3 separate regions of the Homo sapiens genome follow, and all the other regions are linked to region 2. The links come from fine-mapping of genetic effects on plasma protein levels. A gene starts in region 2. Each other region holds a variant in brackets. All regions are shown on one strand. Distances are from middle to middle.

Region 1 (10,681 bases), 28 kb after region 2:
TTACCACTTTGGGAAGAGTAAAGATTTTAAAGTTAGACAGAGACAAACTGTGTTTGAATACAGACTCTACCACTTCATACCAATGGGATCTTTTCACTTAATCTAGTCCCCCTTTTAAAAGTGATTGTAATTCCAGGATTGCCATAATATCTCCAGTGCTTATAGCTAAGGGCCCAGAATATAGTAGGCACTCAGGAGTTGGTAGTGATGGTGATAATGAGGATGATGGTTTTTCTGGCTAAGCCACACATATTCTGATAATGAAGACACCTGAACAGAAACACAGAGAGTAGAGAAAGTTTTTCCCTTTCAGTATTTCAATCAAATCCTAACTAAATCAATACTGACTTATTCAGCTTGTGTGTATTTTTTCCTAACTACTAGAGTTTCTAATACCTGAACCACATAAACTATCTTACACTGTTTTCTTTGTGTAAATGAAACATTCACCAACCAGATGTCTTGTAGGTTGTCAGTAGCAGATAATGATTAAAAGCACAGATTCTGCAGGTAAATGACTAGCTTTGCATCTGTCACTGACTGTGTAAACTTGAACAAGTTATTTTACCTCTCCTTACCTCAGTTTACAGATACATAAATTCTGGATATTAATGATAGCTATGTCATAATTAAATAATTAAAGTTAAGTATATATACACATATGTATGTATAAATAAGTATACTTATTGAGAGTTTATGATTGCCAGGAACCATTCTAAGTATTATATACATATATATACACATGTATATAAGTATATATAAGTATATACATGTGTATATATATGTATACATGTATATACTTATATATACATGTATACATATAAGTATATACATGTACATATATAAGTATATACATGTGTATATATGTATACATGTATATACATATATACTTATATACATGTGTATATATATGTATACATGTGTGTATATGCATGTATATATGTATATAGTGCTTAGAATGGTTCCTGGCAATTATAAACTCTCAATATTATTATTGTTATTATTATTATTATTTCATTTCTTGTTCTCTCTGATAATCCTCTTCCCGACTCCCTCCCAAAAGATTCAAAATTAGCCAAAGAGAAGGCCCGCAGTCCTTAATGACCAGAAAGAGGATTCAATTTGGATTCACAAGGCTTAAAAAGAAAAACACTAGCAATGCTGGGAGAGTTTGTGGAGATGAGCATTGTTTATATGGTGCAGGGAAAGTGTGTATTGGTGCAGCCTTTTGGAAGAGCAATATGGAGGGTCCATAAATATCTTAAATGGTCATATAGTTAATCACTAACTGTGTAAACTTGAATAAGTTATTTTGCCTCTTCTTGCCTCTGTTTACAGATATATAAATTCTGGATATTGACGATAGCTATGTCATAATTAAATAATTAAAATTAAGTATATATACACAAACATATATATATGTATAAATAAAACAAAATAACAACAGAAACTTAAACATACACCCAAAGAAAAATGGCAAAATTCAGCATAGGATATCTATCATGCAGCTTTTTAGACTTCAGCCTATCAACCCTCCAGTTCTAACATTCCATTACCACAGCCTAGCTTAGAAGATGTCTCCAGCTTCAATACCATCTCCAAAAACGTAGGATTCTTATGAGCCCTTTCTGTTTAATCTCTCAGTAAGTCCTATTGACTCTTCTTCTACAACATGAATCTCTTCACAGAAACCGACACCACCATCTCTCACACGGACTGCTGCTCTGGCCTCCTCATTAGCTTCCTTGCCACTATCTGGATTTTCACATAGCAGCCTGACATGCCTTTTAAAAAATAAATGAGATTAAGTAAACAACCAGCCTAGAGACTTCTGATGGTTTTCCATCAAACTTCACATGTGGCATTAGGTCCACACTCCCAGCTGTGGCCTACAAGTTGCAAATAAATTTTTCTAATGTCAACTTGTACTATTGTTTCTTCCACTCACTTATAATATTCTGCTATGATCAGTCCCCTTCCTATCTCTCAACTGTGCCAAGCTCACTTCCACTTTAGCATCTTATAGCAGGTGCTTCTTGTGCCTGGAAAGCCCCTGCCATTGATTTGAGAGTGGCTGGTTCCTTTTTATTATACACAGCTCAACTTAAGATATTATTTTTTCAGAGAGACTTTTCTTTACAACCAAATCTAAAGCAGATTGTCCTCTACTACATCCCCAAGACCAGTTGCTTTTTAATGAAATGGCTTATTTTCATTTCTTTATACAATAATTACTGTCTGAAGTCTTCTTTTTGTTAACCTATTTACTTCTCTACTATTTGTGTTTCCCACCAGAATAGAAGCTCCACAAAGCAAGGACCTCACTTGAGAAAGAATTGCATGTTCTCTCTCGGTTTTTACTTCATGAAAATATCATTTTAAACTTATTGTTATCAGTATTATTGCCTATGTTATTATTATTTTATTGGCTGAGTTGAGAACTTATATTTAGTTTTTCCTACTTCAGAGCAAAAATAAAAGCATTCTTTTCATAGGTATTATAAACCATAAATATAACTTCTCCCACTCATTTTTCTTATTTTTCCATTTAAGAAATAGTAAATCTATTAATTTTCTCCTGATGATCTCAATTTTGCCTCAAATCTCATTACATCTCCAGCCATGTTTTCATAAATTACAATGTTGATAATAATTAAGATTTGTTCTGGTCATTTAACCTTAGTTCATTTAAGTATCCTCAGTAATCTGAAGAGGTAGCATGATACCTATTTTGTGAATAATATCTAACATTTATTGACTAATTATTTTGTGCCAGGCACTGTTAAAAGTATTCTTAATTTATCTTTGCAACAACCCATTTTACAGATCAGGAAACCAATGAATAGAGAAATAAATTAGCTTGTCTGAGATTTTACACATTGTTAATGGCAACTTTGGGATTCAAATCCAATTCATCTGAATCCAGACTCATTTTCTTAACTTCCGTACTATCTTGCTTTCCAATATGGAAAAACTTCCTTTGGGAGAGTTTGAAGGATTTGAGAGTAAGTGGCAGAACAGAGTTTGAACCAGAAACACATATAGTCAGTTCTTCATGTTTATGGGGTTCCTCATTTGTGGATTCAACCAAGCACAGATAAAAAATATTTGAAAAAGAAATTGCATATATGTACTGAAAATGTACAAACTTTTTTCTTGTTGTTATTCTCAAAGCCATACAGTATAACAACTATTTACATAGCATTCACATAGTATTAGGTATTATAAATAATCTAGGGAGGATTTAAAGTATACAGGAAGAAATGCCTAAGTTATATGCAAATACTTCACCATTTTAAATGAGGGACGTGAGCATCTGCAGATTTTTATATGGGGGAGGCCCTGGAGCCAATCCCCCAAAGATACCAATGAACAACTGTTCTCTAAACCAGTGATTCACAAACTTTTTGGCACCAGGGACCGGTTTTGTGGAAGACAATTTTTCTGTGGACAAGGGTTGGGGGGGGGAATGGTTTTGGATGATTCAAGTGTATTACGTTTATCATTAGATTCTCATAAGGGGCATGCAACCTAGGTCCTTTGCATGTACAGTTCACAATAGCGTTCATGCTCCTATGAGAATCTAATGACTGATCTGACAGGAGGCAGAGCTCAGCTTCACTTGCTTAAACCCTGCTCACCCTCTGCTGTGCAGCCCAGTTCCTAGCAGGCCATGGGCCAATACCAGTCTGTGGCCCCGGGGGTTGGGGATCACTGCTCAAAAGTGTTACACTATTTAGTTTATTCTAAAGAGATTTAGTGCCACAATCAAGGTCATGAAACTTCTCTTGACTAAGGAAGTCATTAGAACCCAAGGCTTCCATCCTCCAGTCACTGCTCATTCTCTTTTAACTGCCCCAGTTCATTCTCTATGGAAAGTTTCCCTCTTCACAGGATTGATTAAAATCCTGTGGCTGTTCACTACTCACTGCTTACACTCACTTTTGTCCCAGCAAATGTGAACACACAGGACTGTCCCAGAAAGGGAACTTCAGTGAGGAATTGCAGGAGCACAAGATAACAGATTTTGCTGAGAAGCTGCAGCACTAACAGCTGTCCTTGACTGAGCAGTACTCAAGTTCAAGGCACTATGAACACTTTGCATGCATTAACTCATTCAGTTCTTTATAACAACACTGTGAGGTAGCTATCATTACCCTCATTTCCAGGTGAGGAAACAGACTCAGTGAATTTAAGCAACTTGCCCACGGTTTCACAGATAGAAGTGAAGCACCAGGATTTGAATATGAGTCTGTCTGATCCCATAGATGACCCCTAAACACTACACATAGAGAGATTACCAAGACATAATTAGGCAGAAGCTTTGCATAAAGTCTTCTTTTAAGTCTCTTTATCAATGACTTTTAGAAATGTGATATAGACAATTCAATTAATATGTCACATGGGAAGAATGCTAGATGTGGGAGGGCTCAGAAATCAGTAAGGTCATCCTGAGCTACAAAAGTTTCTGACCTTACATTACAGAGGTGCATAAAATGTTCCACGCCCAGACATGCAATGTCATCCTCTCACTGGATGACACATTCAAAGCTGTCATTCCCAATA[T/A]TGTCATGGTATCATGGCAACTGAATCAGGTCAGAATTCCTGCATGTTAATTATTGCAAAACAGTGGAAAGAGCCTCTCATTCTCAGAATTCAAAAAATCTTCAGAGTTCATCTAGCCCAATCCCTTTCATTGTATAGGTTAAGAAACTGAAGTCCTACTGGCATTAAAACACTAGGTAGCAACTTGAATGACTCTCAGCGACATTATATGGAGTGAAAGAAGCCAGACACAAAAGATTATATGGCATATAATTCCCTTTATAAGAACTTCCAGACAGACAAAACAAACCTATAGTAATAGAAGTTCAAACAGCAATGTCTGTGTCTGGGGGGAAGAGGCAATGACCATAATGAGGCACAAAGAAAACTTTGAGGCAATAGAAATGTTTTACACTTGGATCTAAATGGCGATTATACAGATACATGTTTACATAAATATTATCAAATTGTATACTTAAGATCTGCAAATTTTAATGTATATAGAGCATGCATTAATGAAAAGAAAAAAAAAAACCTGCCTATATTCCTGTCTGAATTGCATTCTTTATTGAATAATACCTAGAGATGCTTTTCTGGTAGATTTAGAATTACGTTTAGAATTGGAGACAAGGAAAATTGAGGTACCGAGCAGAGAGCAAGTTTTCTCAAGATCATATAATATGGAAAGAGCTAGAATTAGATTTTACATTTCCATGCTGTAATGCCTTGGAAATATCTGGTATTATGAATAAGTTTCGATGGAGGCCCCTGTGATAAAGTGCATAAAGCAAAGTAAAACCAATATTGAGTTTGAAGCCAGATAATCTGTACTCAAAGATCAGTAATACCATTATTTGTATAAATTACAATGCCTGGCACATGGCAGGCATTCAATGGATTTTTAAGGGGGTGAATAAGGTAGATAGAATTAAATATAAATTATTTATCTTTTCTAAATCTAGGAATGATAAAAATGAAAAACATTTGAATATTTTAAATCAGTAATCCTCAAAATACATTCAATAAAAAATGAGATACTTACAATTGTACCAATAGAAAAAAGCTTTCTAGGCTGGGTGCAGTGTTTCCTGCCTATAATTCCAGCACTTTGGGAGGCTGAGGTGGGTGGATCAATTGAGACCTAGAGTTCAAGACCAGCCTGGCCAACGTGGCAAAACCCCATCTCTAATAAAAATACAGAAATCAGCCAGATGTGGTGGCACATGTCGGTAATCCCAACTACTCAGGAGGCTAAGGCAAGAGAATCGCTTAAACCCGGGAGGTGGAGGTTGCAGTGAGCCAAGATCGCGCCACTGCACTCCAGCCTGGGCGACAGAGCAAGACCTTGTCTCAGGAAAAAAAAAAAAAAAAGAAAAAAGCTTTCTAGAGTCCAATGTGTTTGCCAATTTTAGTTTAAGCAAATTAAGTAACTTTGCTTGTCTGCAGAACTTCTGTTTAAGTGCTAAAAAATATTCCTAGACCAAAGAGATTCAGCTAAATGAAATTCCTGCAGGAAAATAAAGTTTGTAGCATTTTCTAAAACCATTTGATCACCAAATCCTCCTAGATTAGAATGTTTACTAAAATCTCACAAAGCAGAAACATAGAATATATAGAATGTTTCTATATACTTTGGCAACTATGCTGCATTAATAAAATTTTAGTTTGTTAGTCTCACTGGGTTAATAAATCATAAGTTGCCCCCTGAAAGGGGGCATTTCATTCTTCATTGGAATTTTTCCAAAGACAGGTTTCAAGAAGTATAAATTACATATTGCAGCAATAAATAAAAGTTCATTAATTTATGAAAAGATTTTTGTTGAGGAATACAAATCTTTTTGCAGGTCTCAGTGATCATCTCAACATCTTGCTATAAATAGAAAGGAAGAGATAGCTCTTTTTCAAGGATGTGGGAAAGCATCAAGTTCGGTCAAGGATACCCGGACTAAAAATAAATGAAATGAGATGAGATTCCACTTTTACTAACTCCCAAACTCAAATGTAAACATTATTTTTATTATTAACATGTTTTAAAGATGTGAGGCTCTAAAAAAATAGTTAAATATATTTTGAGGTTTATCAAATGGAGGAGTGAAATATATAACAATGGCACAAAGGATGGAAGAAAGTGAAAGTATACTACTGTAAGATTATTACATACTAAATGGAATGGTATAATATTTAATAGTAGACTGTACAAGTTAAAGACATATATTGTAAACACTAAAATAAAACTTACAAATTTTTAAAAGATACATAACTATTAAGCCAATAGTGGGGATAAAATGGAATCATTAAAAAGAAAATCCAACGACAGCAGGAAAGGGACCAAAAAAAGGCAAAAAAAATTATAAAATGTATGGTAAGATAATAGATCCAAATCCAGTATTATGAATATTTACCTTCAATGTAACTGGTCTAAATACTTCACTTAGGCAGTATTTACTGAATAAAAAGCAGAAATCGACTTAATAAAAAAGCAAAGACTCAACTATATAATATCTATAGCCAATCCACTTTAAACATAAAAACATAGATTAAATGTAAAAAGATGGAAAATATGTACAATGTAAATTTTAATCAAAAGAAAGCTGCAGTGGCTATATTGATGTTAGACAAAATAGATTTCAGAACCAGAAATAGTACCAGGGGTAAAGAAGAATATTTATGCATATATTTATGCAATATAAAAGAAGACATTTATGCAGCCAAAAAACACATGAAAAAATGCTCATCATCACCGGCCATCAGGGAAATGCAAATCAAAACCACAATGAGATAACCTCTCACACCAGTTAGAATGGCGATCATTAAAAAGTCAGGAAACAACAGGTGCTGGAGAGGATGTGGAGCAATAGGAACACTTTTACACTGTTGGTGGGACTGTAAACTAGTTCAACCATTGTGGAAGACAGTGTGGCGACTCCTCAGGAATCTAGAACTAGAAATACCATTTGACCCAGCCATCCCATTACTGGGTATATACCCAAAGGATTATAAATCATGCTGCTATAAGGACACATGCACACGTATGTTTATAGCGGCACTATTCACGATAACAAAGACTTGGAACCAACCTAAATGTCCAACAACGATAGACTGGATTAAGAAAATGTGGCACATATACACCATGGAATACTATGCAGCCATAAAAAATGATGAGTTCATGTCCTTTGTAGGGACATGGATGAAACTGGAAACCATCATTCTCAGCAAACTATCACAAGGACAGAAAAACAAACACTGCATGTTCTCACTCATAGGTGGGAATTGAACAATGAGAACACATGGACACAGGAAGGGGAACATCACACACCGGGGACTGTTGTGGGGTGGGGGGAGGGGGGAGGGATAGCATTAGGAGATATACCTAATGCTAAATGTCGAGTTAATGGGTAAAATGCAGCACACCAACATGGTGCATGTACACATATGTAACAAACCTGCACGTTGTGCACATGTACCCTAAAACTTAAAGTATAAAAATGATAAAATTAAAAAAAAGAAACACGAAATAAAATGAGAATACAATGAAAAAAAAGAAAAAGAAATTAAGTCACAGAGAAATTATAATGTTAAATTTGTTTGCATCTAACAACAGTATCAAATAAATGAAGCAAAACTTGATAAAACTGAAAAAGAAATAGACAAATCCCAATTAGACTTGGAGATTTTAACAGCCATTTCTTAGTCATAAATAGAACAAGTAAAGGAAAATCAGAAAAGCTACAGAAGACTTTACCACTATTACCAACTTGGCCGTTACATTTTTTACAAGTGCACATGGAACAACATTTAGATAGATCATATTATGTGCTGTAAAATAAATCTGAACAAATTCGAAAGGATTTCGTTGCACAAAGCATTTTTCTCTGACCACAAAAACCATTAAATTGATAATCTTTGAAAAGCAGAACTTGATCTCCCTCAGTTTTTGAAGGCCTACACCCAACAGTCTCTCAATCAAAAGTCCAGAAAGACTATAATACAATCCAAGTGTAGAATGGGTTTCACTGAAACTGTTTAGTTTCAGATAACTTCTTGTTTTTTTTTTGAGACAGAGTTTCATTCTTGTTGCCCAGGCTGGAGTGCAATAGCATGATCTTGGCTCATGGCAACCTCCTCCTCCCAGATTCAAGTGATTCTACTACCTCAGCCTCCCAAGTAGCTGGCATTACAGGCATGCACCGCCATGCTCGGCTAATTTTTCTTTTTGTATTTAGTAGAGACAGAGTTTCACCATGTTAGTCAGGCTGGTCTCGAACTCCTGACCTCAGGTGATCCACCCGCCTCGGCCTCCCAAAATGCTGGGATCGCAGGCGTGCGCCATCGTGCCCGGCCCAGTTTTAGATAATTTAACCCCTAATTACATTTATGTGATTAGGCTCTCATCCTGTCTAAAAGAAAAAACTGAAATGGAGGAATAATTCAACAGTACCGGTGGAAAATGGTATCATCTAGATAGAGACTTTATAATTACATCATATACTATGTCCAAAATACTATTTTACAAAATACTAGACAAGCAACATGGTAACAAAATAAAACCAATTAGCAAGAGAAAAATATGCGAAAGGAGCAGAAGTAAAAATAATCTAGATATTGTAAGTAGTAGAAACAGAATTTTGGTTCACTGTGATTAATACATTTGTTATTTGAAAGAAAACATGAACAAAATAAATGAAAGCATGAGGAACTTAAACACATAAATAGAGGATTTAAAATTAATCAAATGACATTCCAGAACTTAAAAAGATAACACATGAAGTTACGAAACTGCTGGACACAATAGAATGAAGAATTGGTAAACTGGAAGATGGCACTATAGGGAATTTCCTAATTCTGATTTTTAGAAAAGATATGTACAAAAAAAAAGAGAGAGAGAAATTGTTGCATTCAATAGTGAAATGCTAGCGCTTGCCCCAAAAGGTCAGAAATACAAAAAGAGCATCAACGGCTGCTATTTCTATGCATCATTATAAAGTAAGTTCTAACCATTCCAATAAGTCAAGAAAAGGTTACAATGTTTGGAAAGGAGTGTGTAAAACTGCCTTTTTTTTTTTCACAGATGACATAATTGTGGACATACAACATCAAATAAAAAGATAAACTATTGCAATCAATAAATCAATTCATCAAGGTCACTGGACCCAGGTCAACAACAAAAAACAATTGTATCTCTATATACTAGCAATAAATAATTGAAAAATAAGATAAAATAGGAACTATTTACAGCAGCATTTTTAGAAAATCACACATTTATGAGTAAATCTTAAGAAAGTAGTGCAAGTACCATTGCACTACTGAGAGACATTAAAATCTGAATAAGTAAAGAAGTATTCCATGTTTTGGGGTCAAAAAAATTAAATATTCAATATATCAATTCTCTCAAAACTTATCTATAAGTACAATATACTCCCAATCAAAAAGGTTGACACTTTTTGCATGTGGAAATTGACATGTGATTCCAAAGTTTATGTAGAAATAGACAGGAAGATGTTAAAGAAGAGGAAGAAATACAAGATTCCAGCGTGTTCTAGAAAGCTACAGTAATTAAGACAGTATGGATTCAGTGCAAAGGTAGAAAAACATATCAACGGAAAAGAATAGTGAAACCAGAAACAGCTCACACATAAACAGTCACTTGGTTTAGGTAAAAGCACCAGTTCTCTTCAGTGGCAACCGTATGGTCTTTTCAATAAAGACTGAAATAGTTAGATATACATATGAGAAAAAAAGGTGAACTTTGACTCTGAACTTACAGCATAACCCAAAATTTATGTGAGGTGGCTCATACCCCAAATGTGAAAGCCAAAGTCAGTAAGCTTCCAGAAGAAAATATGATTAAATACCTTCATGACCTTGGGGTAGGAAAAAAATCTTTATAGAACATAAAAAAGACAAATCACAAAAGAAAAAATCAACAAAGCAAAAGTAAAAATTTCTGTTTGTCAAAAAATATTCTGAAAGTAAATAGATAAGCCACAGCCTGGATAAAAAACCTGCAATACATAAATTCTGACATAGCTAACATATTTAACATATTATATAAGCTCTTATGCATTTGTTAAAAAAAGAAAAACAATCCATTAATAAATGTGCAAAAGGCTTGACCAAAACTTCAAAAAAGAGAATA
Region 2 (10,075 bases):
GACCAGGAGATTAGTATATATACTCACAAAGGTCTAATCACTCAGAAAGTTACAATTACTTTGGAAAATAATACTCATGTGAATTCTAACCCCATCAAAATAGCTTATCTTCAAAAGGTCCTTTCGGAGTAATAAATGCCAGCCTCCCTTTTAAAATTACAATATAACATACACACAAAATACTATACCAATTATAATTTTGAAACTATATTATAGTTGAAACTATAATATAGCATTACATTTATAGGATATATACATAAAATTTAATTTTCTGAATTCTGGCAGCTCTACCTCCTTATTACAGCTGCAAAAGTTAGAGATCTGACAGAAGGTAAGATTAAGGTCACAGGCTATTATACTCTCTCATTAACATAGGCTCTTTTGTACCTACACACCTATTTTAGGAAAATGGGCATTATTTGTATATGATTTCAGACTATCTATGAGTTTCTCTTTTTAAAAATTTTAATGTTTCAGAGCAACGTAAGTCTAGGCAATTTGTGTTCTCTTAGGGTTAAATAGCAAATATAAAAATCTACCTTCCAGCTCCCACAAAAGTCCCTCACTCTTTGGGAGAAATGCTTTCAACCCATTTAGCATTTGAAAACACAAGACTAAAATAAGCTAGAAGATACCACTGCTTTAAAATAAGAACAGATGATTGAATTTTAAAAAATATTTCATTTATACCTATAACATTAAAATACATATATTATTTACAATTAAGTTTTAAATGTCTATTACATATATAAGAATATGCATTATGAATTGATACATTTAGCAAGAGGAAGATGAAGAAGAATCTATTCAGTTTTCTGAATTAATAAAGAATTAATGGAAGAATTTCTCATGGTTAGAAAATTCAGATTATCTCAAACTACTTGCCATTTCTAAAGATAACAACATAATTATAAAGCCACATATATAAATCTTCAGAACTCTGTGTCTGGCAAGACATTTCAGGATTATACATGCATACGTAAACATTTTTTGGCAGGAGTAGGGGGAGAAAAGTCCCTTCCCCAGGGCTTTGAGATGTGTGGCAAGAGGCTTAGATTACACACAAATTGCTCACCTTGTATGAGGCAAAGAGCCAAGGGCAGAAGCACTGACACTGTGGCTATCTTCATGTTGAAGACGATGCAAGTCGCCTACAGGTCCACTCCATGCATTGCTCAGCTGGTGCAGTATGACTGAACTCGGGGCGATGCAGTTTACTTTTATAAAGCACTGGTGACACCCACATAAAACCAGTTGTTCAAGGTCATGGGACTTATATACCACACCACTTTAGCTTCCATCCTTTAGGATCCTGTCAGGGTGTCAGGTTTGAACAGAGAATATCTATTTCTAAAGTAGGAATGTTCTTTCATGGTACCTCCCCCAGAACGCAATTGATGGAGTCCACAGACCCTACTCAAAGTTGAATATTCTATAATCCTATATAATAACCGAATTCCTCAGAAATACCAGATATACTACCTCGTAGACAAACATGTTTCTGACTGGACTCCCTTCATAAGTGGGAGAGGAGAGGAAAGGAAGACAGATTGGTTGTCCTACCAGTCAGGTATAGATTTAAAGATTTCCACATCCAGAGAAATCCAGGGTTCCTGTTCTGAAGTGTCTGAGTTCAGTGTCACAGACTCATATATATGTTAGAGTTGAACGACCCTAAAAGATAACCTGGCAAAATTCTAATGTTGAATATATAGGGAGGCAGGAACTCAGAGGAGCAATGACTTTCTCATAAGCAGACAGTTTAGTTGGAGCAGGCAGAGGAGGCATCCAGCACTTGCAAGCAGACCACACATATAACATTCTTTCCTCTCTGTACACTGCTTCATCCTTAGACATTAGAAAAGGCAGGAACGTTGGAAAAATAAAACTTGTATGTAACTACTTTTAAAACTTCTCAATCTGCAGGATATTTTATATTCTGAAGCCTTATTTTATATCCTAGCCAAACATCATAATCATAAACATTGGAGACTCAGTTTAACTTTCCATAGCCTATGATTACCCATATTACCGTTTGAAAAATTTGGCTCAATCAGTTTTCTCTAAATCATATTTCTTCCTGTATCATCCCATTATTTAGTCTCCCAAAAAGAAAAGAAGAAAAAAGTTGTTAACAATTATAAATGTGTAAATGTAACATTTTTCTAGAGAAAGTTTCTTCTCTTTAGTTGCTTCTTTCATCCTACAAGTAACACCTTTTTTCTACCAGCTTATTTTGCCCTAATAGCTTAAGAAAGCACCTGAAGAAACATGTGAAGATGACTGAAACCAGAGCCAAATTGTTTCATTCCAGTACTTCTCAAGATATTCACATCCACAGAAGAAAAGTTCGAGACTTTATCCAATTAAAGGCCTTTTTATGATGGTTCCAGAAAACTGATCAAAGTTGCCCAACTTAGGGAGTATGCCAATATTATGAGATTTATCACAGTGAGATAATACGTCCTTTCTTTTTTCTCTCATGAAATAATTTATTTCCTATAAAAATATAATCACTGGGCCAGGCACAGTGTATCACGCCTGTAATCCCAGCACTTTGGGAGGCCAAGGCTGGCGGATCATGAGGTCAGGAGATCGAGACCATCCTGGCCAAGATGGTGAAACCCCATCTCTATTAAAATACAAAAATTAGATGGGCTTGGTGGTACGCACCTGTAGTCCCAGCTACTCTGGAGGCTGAGGCAGGGGAATTGCTTGAACCCGGGAGGCGGAGGGTGTGTGAGTTGAGATGGCGCCACTGCACTCCAGCCTCAGCGACAGAGCAAAACTCCATCAAAAAAAAAAAAGATATACACACACACACACACACACACACACACACACACATACATATATATACACACACATATATATATATATATAAAATCATTGGTTTCAAGGTCTGCACTATTGTTGTAGCTTGGCTCCTTTCCAATGGAATAGTAAAATTAGTGACCACGGAAAGCAAGTTCAAATTCCATTATTGTTACAGGTTAGAAAATCAAAGTCCATCATAGCTTAATGGAAAGAGAATGAGACAGGGTTTCAGAAATCTGTTTCTATTCTATGTAGTCTTTTCAACTATGTAGGGATAGAAATGAACCCAGCTTTGAAGCAAGCTAGAAATGGGTCCAAATCTTGAATTGTTAGCCATGTTGCCTTGGACAAGTCACTTATTTTCTCTAAGCCTCAGTTTCCTAATATGTAAAATAAAAATAATAACACGTACATTGTACTAGTGCTAAGAGGTTTAGAGATAAATCATATATATAATGCGTGTGTGTTTGTGTGTGTGTGAGAGAGAGAGGTGCTTAGAACAATTATCAAGTTTATGTGATAAGCTTGATAGTTAATGATAGCTGGTCTTGCATTTTTACATAATTATAATAACGTGGTTGTACTAGATAATTTCTAAGATACCAAGAAAAGTAAACATCTGTTGACTGTGGATTTCACCAATAGATTTATATTTACTCAGCATAGAAAAACTACCCCAACACAATTTGAGGTGAAATTAAACTATAACGATATATGTTCTCTTTTTCCCTTTTAATTGTATTTTAAACCATAATGCCTAAACAAATCGAAACATCACCTGTTAAAACTTAACGAAAACCATTGCTCTGTTTCAATCAGCATTGATTTCTTGTCTCTTTCTCTAAAAGCCTCTTCTAAATATTCACATATCAATACTAATTTTTTATCTTTCATCTGCCCTGTCAGACCATACGAAATGTGTCCCAACCATATATTCTGTTATTGACGGTAAAAGAGTTTGATGCCTTAAAATGGAATCAATGACTGTGTATTATGCTCTAGTGACCCCTAGCCTAGCCCAAATGGAGAATATTCCCAGGAGTGGAAGTGGTGCTAGGGTGGAACAGAAGAACCAAAAGATGATTGCCTGTCTTAGGAATCTCTACTATGAGGAAACATTGAAGACATTGGTTTCCTTCTTACTGGAAAAGAGCTCCTCAGAGATGCCAGCCTTTTCTGAAATGATGAATAAAAAGTTTGAAACTGATATCTTTTCCAAATGGAGAAAGTAGTAAAAAGAAGATTCAGTGAGCACCCCCAAAATTGGAAGTACTCATCAGCTGGCTCATTTCATTAGGGCTTCTTCTCCATTTCATTTTAGGAATGTTGTAAAGCCAGAGGTGATTCATCACATGCTCTGTTAATTACTCCTCATTCCTGAAAATCACCATGAATATTACATTTAAATGAATGGGATTGAAGGTTTGGAGAACTCAGGTTTGGGTCAGAGTTAGGTTATCAAGGTATTCTTCTAACTCAAAATATCATCCTTGTTTTTAACTCTTTCAATTATTCATCAAACATGTAGAAACTTTTTTCCTCTCATTAGAAATGAGTGGGCTTAGATAATAAAAACTATGAATTTTACAACCTTACGCATTTATGAGGTTGGCAGAATCTGAAGGATACTGATACAGGGGGAGGAAATGAGAAAATTATAAAGATTGTTGTAGATCAGTAATGTTACTACAAACAAAGGTTATTTCCAAAATATAAAGTTACCATATCATTCCTAAAGTCTTCTGTTTTTCTACACAGAGGGAGCCTTGATGACGATAATAGTTAATAAATAACTATAGTCTTTTATGATTAGATCACCTTCCACAGCTTTCAAAACAACCTGCCATTCATTAGCTCTTTTGATTTGTTTATGCAGTGTTGTGAGGCAGCCAATTAGGTGTTATTATCTTTTCTTTACCAGCCAAAATTGGTGTCATAAAAGAAACCTGCAGTAGGAACTAGCTGGGATGGTCATCTCAGCCTTGACACTTTCTTACATTTTATACCTTTAATTTCTCTGAGTTTCCCCACGGCCATCTCACAGACTTTTATACCGTTCAAAGAGAATCCAGATCGAGACCATCCTGGCTAACATGGTGAAACCCCGTCTCCACTAAAAATCCGAAAACATAAAAATTAGCCGGGCGTGGCAGAGGGCGCCTGTAGTCCCAGCTACTCCGGAGGCTGAGGCAGGAGAATGGCGTGAACCCGGGAGGCGGAGCTTGCAGTGAGCCGAGATCGCGCCACTTCACTCCAGCCTGGGAGACAGCGAGACTCCATCTCAAAAAAAAAAAGAGAATCCAGACGTTACAGTGCTTTAAACTAGATACAGCCCTATGCATGCACACACACACAGACACACATACACAATCACTTGGGCAAAAAGAGGTATGTTGTGACCATGAGTAAAATTTATATATTCTAATATATCTTAAAAGATGAAATAATTTCTTTTTTATTTTTTTATTTTCTTTTCTATAATTCTAATATTTTCCCCCATCAATCTAACATGTCTATATTCTCCTGTTTGTTTGTTTGTTTTGAGGCGGAATCTCACTCTGTCCCCCAGGCTGGAGTGTAGTGGTGCAATTTCGGCTTACTGCAAGCTCCGCCTCCAGCGTTCATGCCATTCTCCTGCCTCAGCCTCCCGGAATAGCTGGGACTACAGGCGCCCACCACCGTGCCTGGCTAATTTTTTTTTTTTTTTTTTTTTTTTTGTATTTTTAGGAGAGACAGGGTTTCACCGTGTTAGCCAGGATGGTCTCGTATCTCCTGAACTCGTGATCCACCCGCCTTGGCCTTCCAAACTGCTGGGATTACAGGCATGAGCCACCGCGCCCGGCCTATATTCTCCTTTGTAAAAGACACTAACTGGAAAACAGCCTTTACTCATCTTCTTATCTGGTAATGTTGCATTACCAACTAACTTCACTCTCTCTGTAGGAATTCCTTTCTGTTTGTCTGGAAAGACTAAGAAACTAGAGATAAGCCTCTCATTTTATCTAATAATAGAATGGGATGGGCATTGTTTGTTTACTGAGTATATAGACCCTGCTATTTACAGACATAATTACTGCTTTTATTAGATTAGGATTAAGAAGACAGGAATTTCAATGTCTAATTTTTAATTGTATTAATATTTTCATATGGGTTATATTTTATTTTAGAAACAACAATCAGCTTCTCCCTATAGCTGATATTACTTGAACCCCTGACCCATGGCCCCACACTGTTTATCACTCAAAAATTTAGTGCATTTTAAAGTCTCCTAGGATTTATCCTGACAATAGAAAACAGAGGTTTGAGGAGCTACAGTCTTTCAATAAATCATAACAAATTAATCCTGAAGTACCTAAGAGTCTACCGGCCGGATGTGGTGGCTCACGCCTGTAATCCCAGCACTTTGGGAGGCCGAGATGGGCGGATCACGAGGTCAGGAGATTGAGACCACCCTGGCTAACACGGTGAAACCCCGTCTCTACTAAAAATACAAAAAAATTAGCCAGGCACGGTGGCGGGTGTCTTTAGCCCCAGCTACACGGGAGGCTGAGGCAGGAGAATGGCGTGAACCTGGGAGGCGGAGCTTGCAGTCAGCTGAGATCACTTCACTGCACTCCCGCCTGGGCGACAGAGCAAGACTCTTTCTCAAAAAAAAAAAAAAAAGTCTACCTAATTTTAGCAAAAAAGCATTGCAAATTTTATATGTGTAATATGTGTGTGTGTGTGTGTGTGTGTTTACAGTAGGGAAGAATGAAACTGTTAGATTTATAGCAAAGTTAGAAAAAGATTATCTTTACAAAATAATTTGTAGGCCGGGCACCGTGGCTCACTCCTGTAATCCCAGCACTTTGGGAGGCCGAGGCAGGCAGATCACGAGGTCAGGAGATCGAGACCATCCTGCCTAACATGGTGAAACCCCGTCTCTACTAAAAGAAAAACCCGTCTCTACTAACAATAATAAAATTAGCCAGGCGTGGTGGCGGGCACCTGTAGTCCCAGCTACTCAGGAGGCTGAGGCAGGAGAATGGCATGAACCCAGGAGGCGGAGCTTGCAGTGAGCCAAGATCACGCCACTGCACTCCAGCCTGGGTGACAGAGAAAGACTCCAACTCAAAAAAAAAAAAAATTGTAAAGAAATAAAATTTGCTAACACATTTCATGCACTTAGGTACAACAATAAATATAAAGATTAAGTATCATTTTATTCTTACAGGTAAAGCAACTGAGGTTTGGTGAGATTCTATAACTTTTCCAAGGTCATACAGCTTGTAAGCAGTGATCTTGCAAATGATCACAGTCAATGTAATAAAGGCATTCAAACTCCAGAGCCCAGCTTCTTAAACACTACACACCGTAGTAACCACATTGCCTACAACTGTAACTAATGTGTCTCAGGTACTCAATGTTAAGAGCTAAACTCTGTCTGCCCAAAATTTATATGTTGAAGCCTTAAACCCCACTACTTCAGGGTGTGCCTATATTTGGAGATAAGTAAAAGTGGTGGTTAAGTTAAAATGAGGTTATAAGGTTAGGCCTTAGACCAAACTGATTGATGTCCTTACTAGAAGAGGAAATTTGGACACACAAAAGAGACACTAGTGATGCACACACAGAGGAAAAACCACATGAGGACACAGTGGGAACTTGCCCATTACAAACCAAGAAGGAAGCTTCAGAGGAAACCAAACTTGCTGTCACTTTGATCTTGAAATTCTAGCCTCCAGAAATGTGAAAATATAATAAATTTATGTTGTTTAAGTCACCCAGTCTGTGGTATTTTGTGGCGGCAGCCATAGCAAACAATACACTCACCGTATGTATTGACCCAGTCACATGCAAACTGTGTAAAAATGTATAGACACAGTTATACGGTTGAAAATACAGTCTTATGTAGGCTCCTTTCTCTTTAAGTAACCAGTACATTAAACTTATGATCCTGTAGAATAGTGTTAAAGAGAAACAGAGCTGAATATTTATTAAAAGTGGCAAGACTCACTTTATCTGGGCTATTCCAATAGAGAAAAGAAACTCCAGTAGAAACCAAGCTCAATTCTGCTAAAACCAGAGGCAGGATGCTTTTTTAATGCTGAGGTGTGCTGTATTAGTTCATTTTCATGCTGCTGATAAAGACATACCCGACACTGGGAAATTTACAAAAGAAAGAGGTGTATTGGATTCATAGTTCCACGTGGCTGGGGAGGCCTCACAATCATGGTGGAAGGCAAGGAGGAGCAAGTCACATCTTTGTAGCAGTCAAAGAGAGATTGTGCAGAGAAACTCCCATTTTTAAAACAATCAGATCTCAAGAGACTCATTCATTATCATGAGAACAGCACAGAAAAGACCCACCTCCATGATTCAGTCATCTCCCACTAGGTCTCTCCCACAACACATGAGAATTATGGGAGCTACAAGATGAGATTTGTGTGGGAACACAGAGCCAAACTACATCATTCTACCCCTGGCTCCTCCCAAATCTCATATCTTCACATTTCAAACCTGATCATGCCTTCCCAACAGTGCCTCAAAGTCTCAACTCATTTCAGCATTAACTTAAAAGTCCACACTCTGAGACAAGGCAAGTCTCTTCCACCTATGATCCTGTAAAATCAAAAGCAAGTTAGTTACTTTCTAGATACAATGGGGGTACAGCCATTGGGTCAATACAGCTGTTCCAAATGGGAGATATTGGCCAAAACAAAGGGGCTACAGATGCCATGCAAGTCGAAAATTCAGGAAGGCAGTCAAATCTTAAAGTTCCAAAATGATATATTTTGAATCTATGTCTCATATCCAGGTCATGCTGATGCAAGAGGTGGGTTCCCATGGTCTTGGGCAACTCCACCTCTGTGGCTTTGCAGGGTACCGCCTCCCTCCCAGCTGCCTTCACAGGCTGGCACTGAGTGTTTGTGGCTTTCTCAGGCATATGGTGCAAGCTACCTGTGGATCTGCTATTCTGGGTTCTGGAGGATGAAGGCTCTCTTCTAACAGCTCCACCAAGTGGTGCCCAGTAGGGACTCTGTGTGGGGGCTCCTACTCCACATTTCTCTTCTGTACTGCCCTAGCAGAGGTTCTCCATGAGGACCTCACCCCTACAGAAAACTTCTGCCTGGACATCCAGGCATTTCCATATATCTGAGATCTAGGCTGAGGTTTTCAAACCTCAGTTCTTGACTTCTGTGCACTCACAGGCTCAACACCATGTGGAAGCTGTCAAGGCTTCAGGCTTGCACCCTCGGAAGCCATAGCCCAAGCCATGGCCCCCTTCAGCCACTGGAGTGTCTTCAACGCAGGGCTGCACACAGCAGAGGGACCCTAAGCCTGGCCTAGAGAACCATTTTTTCCTCCTAAACCTCTGGGCATGTAATGGGAGGGGCTGCCACAAAGGTCTCTGATATCTCTTGGAGACATTTTCCCATTGTCTTGGGGATTAACATCAGGCTCCTTGCTACTTATGCAAATTTATGCAACTGGCTTGAATTTCTCCTCAGAAAATGGATTTTCTTTTTTTTTATCACACTGTCAGGCTGCAAATTTTCCAAACTTTTATGTTCTGCTTCCCTTAAAAAGCTGAATGCCTTTAAGAGCACCCAAGTTATCTCTTGAATGCTCTGCTGCTTAGAAATTTCTTCTGCCAGATACCCTAAATCATCTCTCTGAAGTTTAAAGTTCCACAAATCTCTAGGGCAGGGGCAAAATGCCACCAGTCTCTTTGTTAAAACATAAGAAGAGTCATCTTTGCCCCAGTTCCCAACAAGTTCCTCATCTCCATCTGAGACCACCTCAGCCTGAACCTTATCATTCACATCACTATTAGCATTTTTGTCAAGGCCATTTAACAAGTCTCTAGGGAATTCCAAACTTTCCCACATTTTCTTGTCTTCTTCTGGACCATCCAAACTGTTCCAACCTCTGTCTGTTACCAAGTTCCAAAACTGCTTCCACGGTTTTGGGTATCTTTTCAGAAACACCCCACTCCTGGTACCAATTTACTGTATTAGTCCGTTTTCATGCTGCTGATAAAGACATACCCAAGACTGGGCATTTACAAAAGAAAGATGTTTATTGGATTTACAGTTCCACATGCCTGGGGAGGCTTCACAATCATGGTGGAAGGCAAGAAGGAGCAACTCACATCTTACATGGATGGCAGCAGGCAAAGAGAGCTTGTGCAGGGAAACTCCTACTTCTATAACCATCAGATCCTGTGAGACTTATTCACTATCACAAGAACAGCACTGGAAAGACTCGCCCCCAT
Region 3 (5,106 bases), 68 kb before region 2:
GTAAACAAAGAAACAAGGAGTAGCAAAGCAATAAGAAAGCAAATATCCTTTATAATATGTGACACAATTACCTGCCCATAAGAAGAAATCTAGAATGATAGGCATGCCAGAAATAATATTCGCCTTTTTAAGTGAAGGTATTGGTTATATACAGCCTAGAAAGGAAAGACTCAGAGGTAAATACTCATAAATTGCATGAGTTTTTGAGTCCTAGCTCTACCACTAACTAGAGAAGTAACTTATCTAACTTTTCTCAGCCTTAATTTTCTCACCAGAAAATCATAAATAATAGTAGTCCTTACTTTATATTACTGCTTGAAGGGATTAAAACAGATAATGCATGTAAGTTCATGCTTAACGCAGTATCTGTCACATACTAAGTGTTCAGTAAATTTTAGTTGTTAGTATGTTTTCCACGGTAAAAAACATATGTATATTTTCCATGTAAAAGAAGAAACATATTTGCTCTTCGTAGTGTTTTGGAAGTATGAGTTTAATAATTAATGATAATTCCAAGACCTTGATTAGTTTTTTAAAAAGGCAAAAAGTAGAGCCAAAATATAAAAAAAGTATTCAAAAGCAAATAGGATGATGGAAGACTTAAATCCAATGGTATCAGTAATTACATAGAATATTAAGAAGTAAGTACTCCAGTTAAAAGACAGAAATTATCCAACTGGAAGAACAAAAAGAATCAACTATATAATATTTATAAGAAATATATTTATAAGTAAAAGGATGAGTTCTAAATAACTCATGACTCAAAGTAATCATAGAATTTAGAAATGAAATGAATCACAAAGAAAATACAACCTATCAAATCCCAGCAGCCAAAGCAGTAATTTGGGGGAAAATTATAACTTTAATACATATATTAGAAAAGAAAGAGGTTCTAAAATGGATGATCTAAACTTTCATCTGAAGGAGCTAGCCAATGATGAGCATAGAAAATTTTTTAAAATAAGTAATAAAGAGGAGAAATTGATGAAATAGAAAATAGAACAAAGCCAAAAGTTAGCTGCTTGAAAAGAATAAGTTGATAAGCTATTTGCAAAATTGACCAGAGTCAAGAAAACATATATTACCAATATTAGAGATAACAGGTCATCACTATATGAGCTGTAGATACTAAAAGAATAATTTAGAAATGTTATAAATAACTACATGCCAAAAAATTTGACAACATAGATGAAATTAATAAATTCCTTGAAAACTACTTACTGAAAACAGATACAAAGACGACATAGAAAATTTAATAGTATTATATCTGCTAATACTCATTTTGGAGGAGTCAAGCAGTATTTGTGTACTTGTTCCTTTGTTTTGATAAATGATTCAAACACCTAAATGAATTGCTTTAGATTGTGGTGAGTTCCATATTGGTACAAATATTCACAGAGAATTTAGATAAGTAACTTATATGAAACCCTGGCAAAGGTTAGACTCAACCAGGTATATCAATTGTATTTTTTCAGGTAACTGGTGCTATAATGTTCAAAAGGTACTACAATGTTCCTTACTCTCTCTCTCTCTTCATTTTTTTAACATAGTACATCAACTCAAAAAATTCTGTTGACTCCACCTTCAAAACAGACCCAGTATCTTACCACCTCTCAAGAGCTCCACCACTACTAACATGGTATAAACCAGCATCATCTCTTCTGTAGACAACTGCAATAGCTAACTAGCTGTCCAGCCCTTGCCTCCCTGCAGTGTTTTCAATAGGTATCAGGCAAAGTTATTCCTTTAAAACATAAATCAAATCATATTAGTCTTCTCAGAACCTTCATTCAGAATATTAGGCAAAGTCTTTAAAATTGTCTACAAAACCCTTTATAACATGGCCTCCCATTAGCTTCCTGACTTCCTCTTCTACAGCTGAGGTAGCTCTATTTCAACAACACTAAACGCTTTGCTATGTTTTCTCTCTGGAATATGTTCTCCTCAGATATACCTACAGAATCAATACCCTTAGGTCTTGATGTAAATGTCACCTTCTGAGAGAGTTATTCTCTGTATATGTCACTTAAAATTGTATCCCCTCCCCTCCCCATCTCAGAATTTACTGTACCATTTTTTTCTGCCTTATTTCCTCCTTGGCATTATTTTTTCATTTATTCATATTATTTATTGTATCTGCTTTTCCAATATACTATGAACTTCATGTAGTGAGCGCTATCTGTTTTGTTTATGGCTATTAACCTAGCATACGTAAATAATGCCTGGAGGCCGGGCGCGGTGGCTCACGCCTATAATCCCAGCACTTTGGGAGGCCGAGGCGGGCGGATCACGAGGTCAGGAGATCGAGACCATCCTGGCTAACACAGTGAAACCCCGTCTCTACTAAAAATACAAAAAATTAGCGTGGTGGCGGGCACCTGTAGTCCCAGCTACTCGGGAGGCTGAGGCAGGAGAATGGCGTGAACTGCGGAGGCGGAGCTTGCAGTGAGCCGAGATCGCGCCACTGCACTCCGGCCTGGGCGAAAGAGCAAGACTCCCTCTCAGAAAATAAATAAATAAATAAATAAGTAAATAAATAATGCCTGGAAAAATAGCAGGTGCTCAGTAAGTATTTGTAGACTGACAAAAGGACTGCCGGCTTGATGAAAAAAATGAATAATGAAAGATTTATTTCTCCAAAAGAAATAGCTCCAAAGCAGACTGTAGCTTATGAGGGAGAATGAGGGGGCTACTGGTCTGCTGATGATATCTTATTTCTTGCTGCTATCACAGGTATGATCACTTTGTGATATTTCATTTAGCTATTTACTTGCATATGTACATTTCTTCTATGTAACTATTATACTTTAGTATTTAAAAAAAAAAACATATTTTGTTAATAGCTCTTCTCCATGCCTTCGGATCCCTGATGTGGAGCTCAATTTACCAGAAATATGTAATTAATGCATATTTCATGTATGTAACTCATCTATTACCCTAGTTGAATTGGGTGAATAATGAAGTAAAATTCATGTTTGATACCTTTCTTTCTCCTTTTCTGGGTCATCAGCCTAGGTGCTAAAATCTTCCTTTTAGGGCCCAATCTGAGAATCTGCTTGATGTTCTCATATCCTCTTTGCTCCTTTCTACTCCTCATCTTGTGAAGGCTCTACAAAGTAAATCTTATCATGCTAATGTAGACTAATACTTACATTACTGGTGACCATCAGCTACGAGAGAGAGGAAGAGAGAAGGGTGGGGTCCTGTTCTGTCACCCAGGCTGGAGTGCAGTGGCACTATCACGGCTCATGGTAGCCTCGACCACCTGGGCTCAAGCCATCCTTCCACCTCAGCCTCCCAAGTAGCTGGAACTACAGGCACAAGGCACCATGCCCAGCTAATTTTTTTTTTTGTAAGTTTTCTAGAGACAGAGTTTCACCATGTTGCCCACAGTGGTCTCAAACTCCTGGGGCCAAGGGATCTGCCCGCTTGGCCTCCCACAGTGCTGGGGTTATAGTCATGAGCCACCGCACCCAGCTCAGCCTATATTTTAAACAAGAAGCTTTAGCTACTGCGAATTGCTAATTGGCGGAAATTTATACCTGTGAGCATGCTTGGCATAGAGTTCCAGGATGTAGAAACAGATTTGGTTGGAGGAGGGAAATAAGCGGAAGCTAGGTGAGGAAGCTAAGAATACCAAGAGGTATGCTAAAATTACAGAATTGAGGCACCTGACTATGTATTTTACCATATGTGAAATTAGTCACAATTATTCCACACACACATTGTAAATTTCAAAATGTACTAAATTGAAGCAGGGCAAATAATCTCAAAGGGCACAGGATAAGGCACTAATGAGAAATCCCAGAACTCTCACCAAGCATAAACTGCATATAGTCCTCAAAGGACTTCAGGCTGCACTGAATCAGCAAACCTCAGACCCTTCTATGAAAATAGCAAATAGCAACAGGTCAAAAAAAATCAAGAAAATTAAATTGATAAGTAGCTTTTCAGAAATAGTCCTCCTTACCAGAGAACTGAAAGAGTCTGGGCTGTCTTCCTCTTGAGAAGCTCTAACA[T/C]GGGATGGCTTTTCTTGAAGCTTTGCCCTTTCCAAAGCTTCTGTTAGACTAGAGAAGAAAATAAAAAATAATTTAAAATAAGAAACAGTTCCTATAACTTCCAGTGAGAAGTTAAGCAATCCTCATAAAATGTGACAGAGGCCAGGCATGGTAGTTCACGCCTGTAACCCCAGCATTTTGGAAGGCCCAGGCTGGCGAATCACCTGAGGTCAGGAGTTGGAGACCAGCCTGGCCAACATGGTGAAACTCCATCTCTACTAAAAATACAAAAATTAGCTGGGCATGGTGGTGCACACCTATCATCCCAGCTACTCGAAAGGCTGAGGCAGGAGAATCTCTTGAACCCAGGAGGCAGAGGTTGCAGTGAACTGAGATCGCACCATTGCACTCCAACCTGGGCAACAGAGTGAGACTCTGTCTCAATAAATAAATAAATAAATAAATAAATAAATAAATAAAACAGAATCACAGAACATTGAGATAGTGACCAGGATGACATATTAAGAAAAGTACACAATTAGGAGCTGGTTTAGAACTTTCATCACTTAACAGATGACAAGTGGGTTAATGTTCTGAAGTTTTGATTTTCTAGAACATAAAATGGGAGTAGTATTTGGTAATTCCCCCTCAAAGAACACTCACTATGAAAAGCTAAAGAAATTTGATTATTGTTGTGTTCACAGTGTGCTTTACAACCATCATCATCATCATCATCATCATCATTTATAATGTCCATTGGTCTCCATTTCTATTTGCTTTTTAGAATAACCTAGAAACTCTTTCTAAAAAACAAATTCCATAGCCCCAAGATTCTGATATAATATATTTTGGGGTGTAAAAATTTGTATTTATTTTTAAAGGCATCTCAATTGAGTCTGATCTAGTTGTGGAATAAAGATCTTGAAGAATTTCTTCTAATTATGATGCTGAAAGTTGAAAACAAATTGTTTAATGACACAGCTAGTATACATCTTGGTTAGAACTTACATACGGAATTTTTGTCTCCAAGTCTCAGTGTTCTTTCTACTATATCAGGTGTTCTCAATTTGAGGGCTTTAATTCTAAAGACTTATTTTTAAAATCCCAT

Direction of the effects. Alleles are on the strand shown, and positions count from the first base shown. The strength of an association depends on the size of the effect and on how common the allele is.
With allele T in place of A in region 1, the plasma level of the protein whose gene starts at base 1,195 in region 2 is higher (weak association).
As copies of T replace C in region 3, the plasma level of the protein whose gene starts at base 1,195 in region 2 goes up (weak association).

The links. PIP is the chance, under the fine-mapping model, that this variant and not a neighbour inherited with it causes the effect. The UK Biobank Pharma Proteomics Project read protein levels with antibody pairs (Olink). The fine-mapping took linkage between variants from a reference panel, not from the people measured, so its PIPs are less certain.
Region 1: its variant is fine-mapped to the plasma level of the SPINK5 protein (UK Biobank, PIP 0.98).
Region 3: its variant is fine-mapped to the plasma level of the SPINK5 protein (UK Biobank, PIP above 0.99). The variant lies in the coding sequence of SPINK5. If it changes the protein, the assay may bind it differently, which can mimic a change of level.

Annotation. Positions count from the first base shown.
Region 1 is chr5:148,027,211-148,037,891 of GRCh38, reverse strand. No RefSeq gene overlaps it. Among named protein-coding and RNA genes, the nearest start is that of SPINK5, 31 kb to the left of the region's middle. The variant T/A (reference allele first, on the strand shown) is at 4,567.
Region 2 is chr5:148,055,100-148,065,174 of GRCh38, reverse strand. It overlaps SPINK5 (serine peptidase inhibitor Kazal type 5), which reads right to left and starts at 1,195. Exons shown (of 33, transcript NM_006846.4): 1 at 1,076-1,195. The coding sequence starts at 1,130.
Region 3 is chr5:148,125,944-148,131,049 of GRCh38, reverse strand. SPINK5 (serine peptidase inhibitor Kazal type 5) reads right to left here. Exons shown (of 33, transcript NM_006846.4): 30 at 3,971-4,067. Among named protein-coding and RNA genes, the nearest start is that of SPINK14, 40 kb to the left of the region's middle. The variant T/C (reference allele first, on the strand shown) is at 4,020.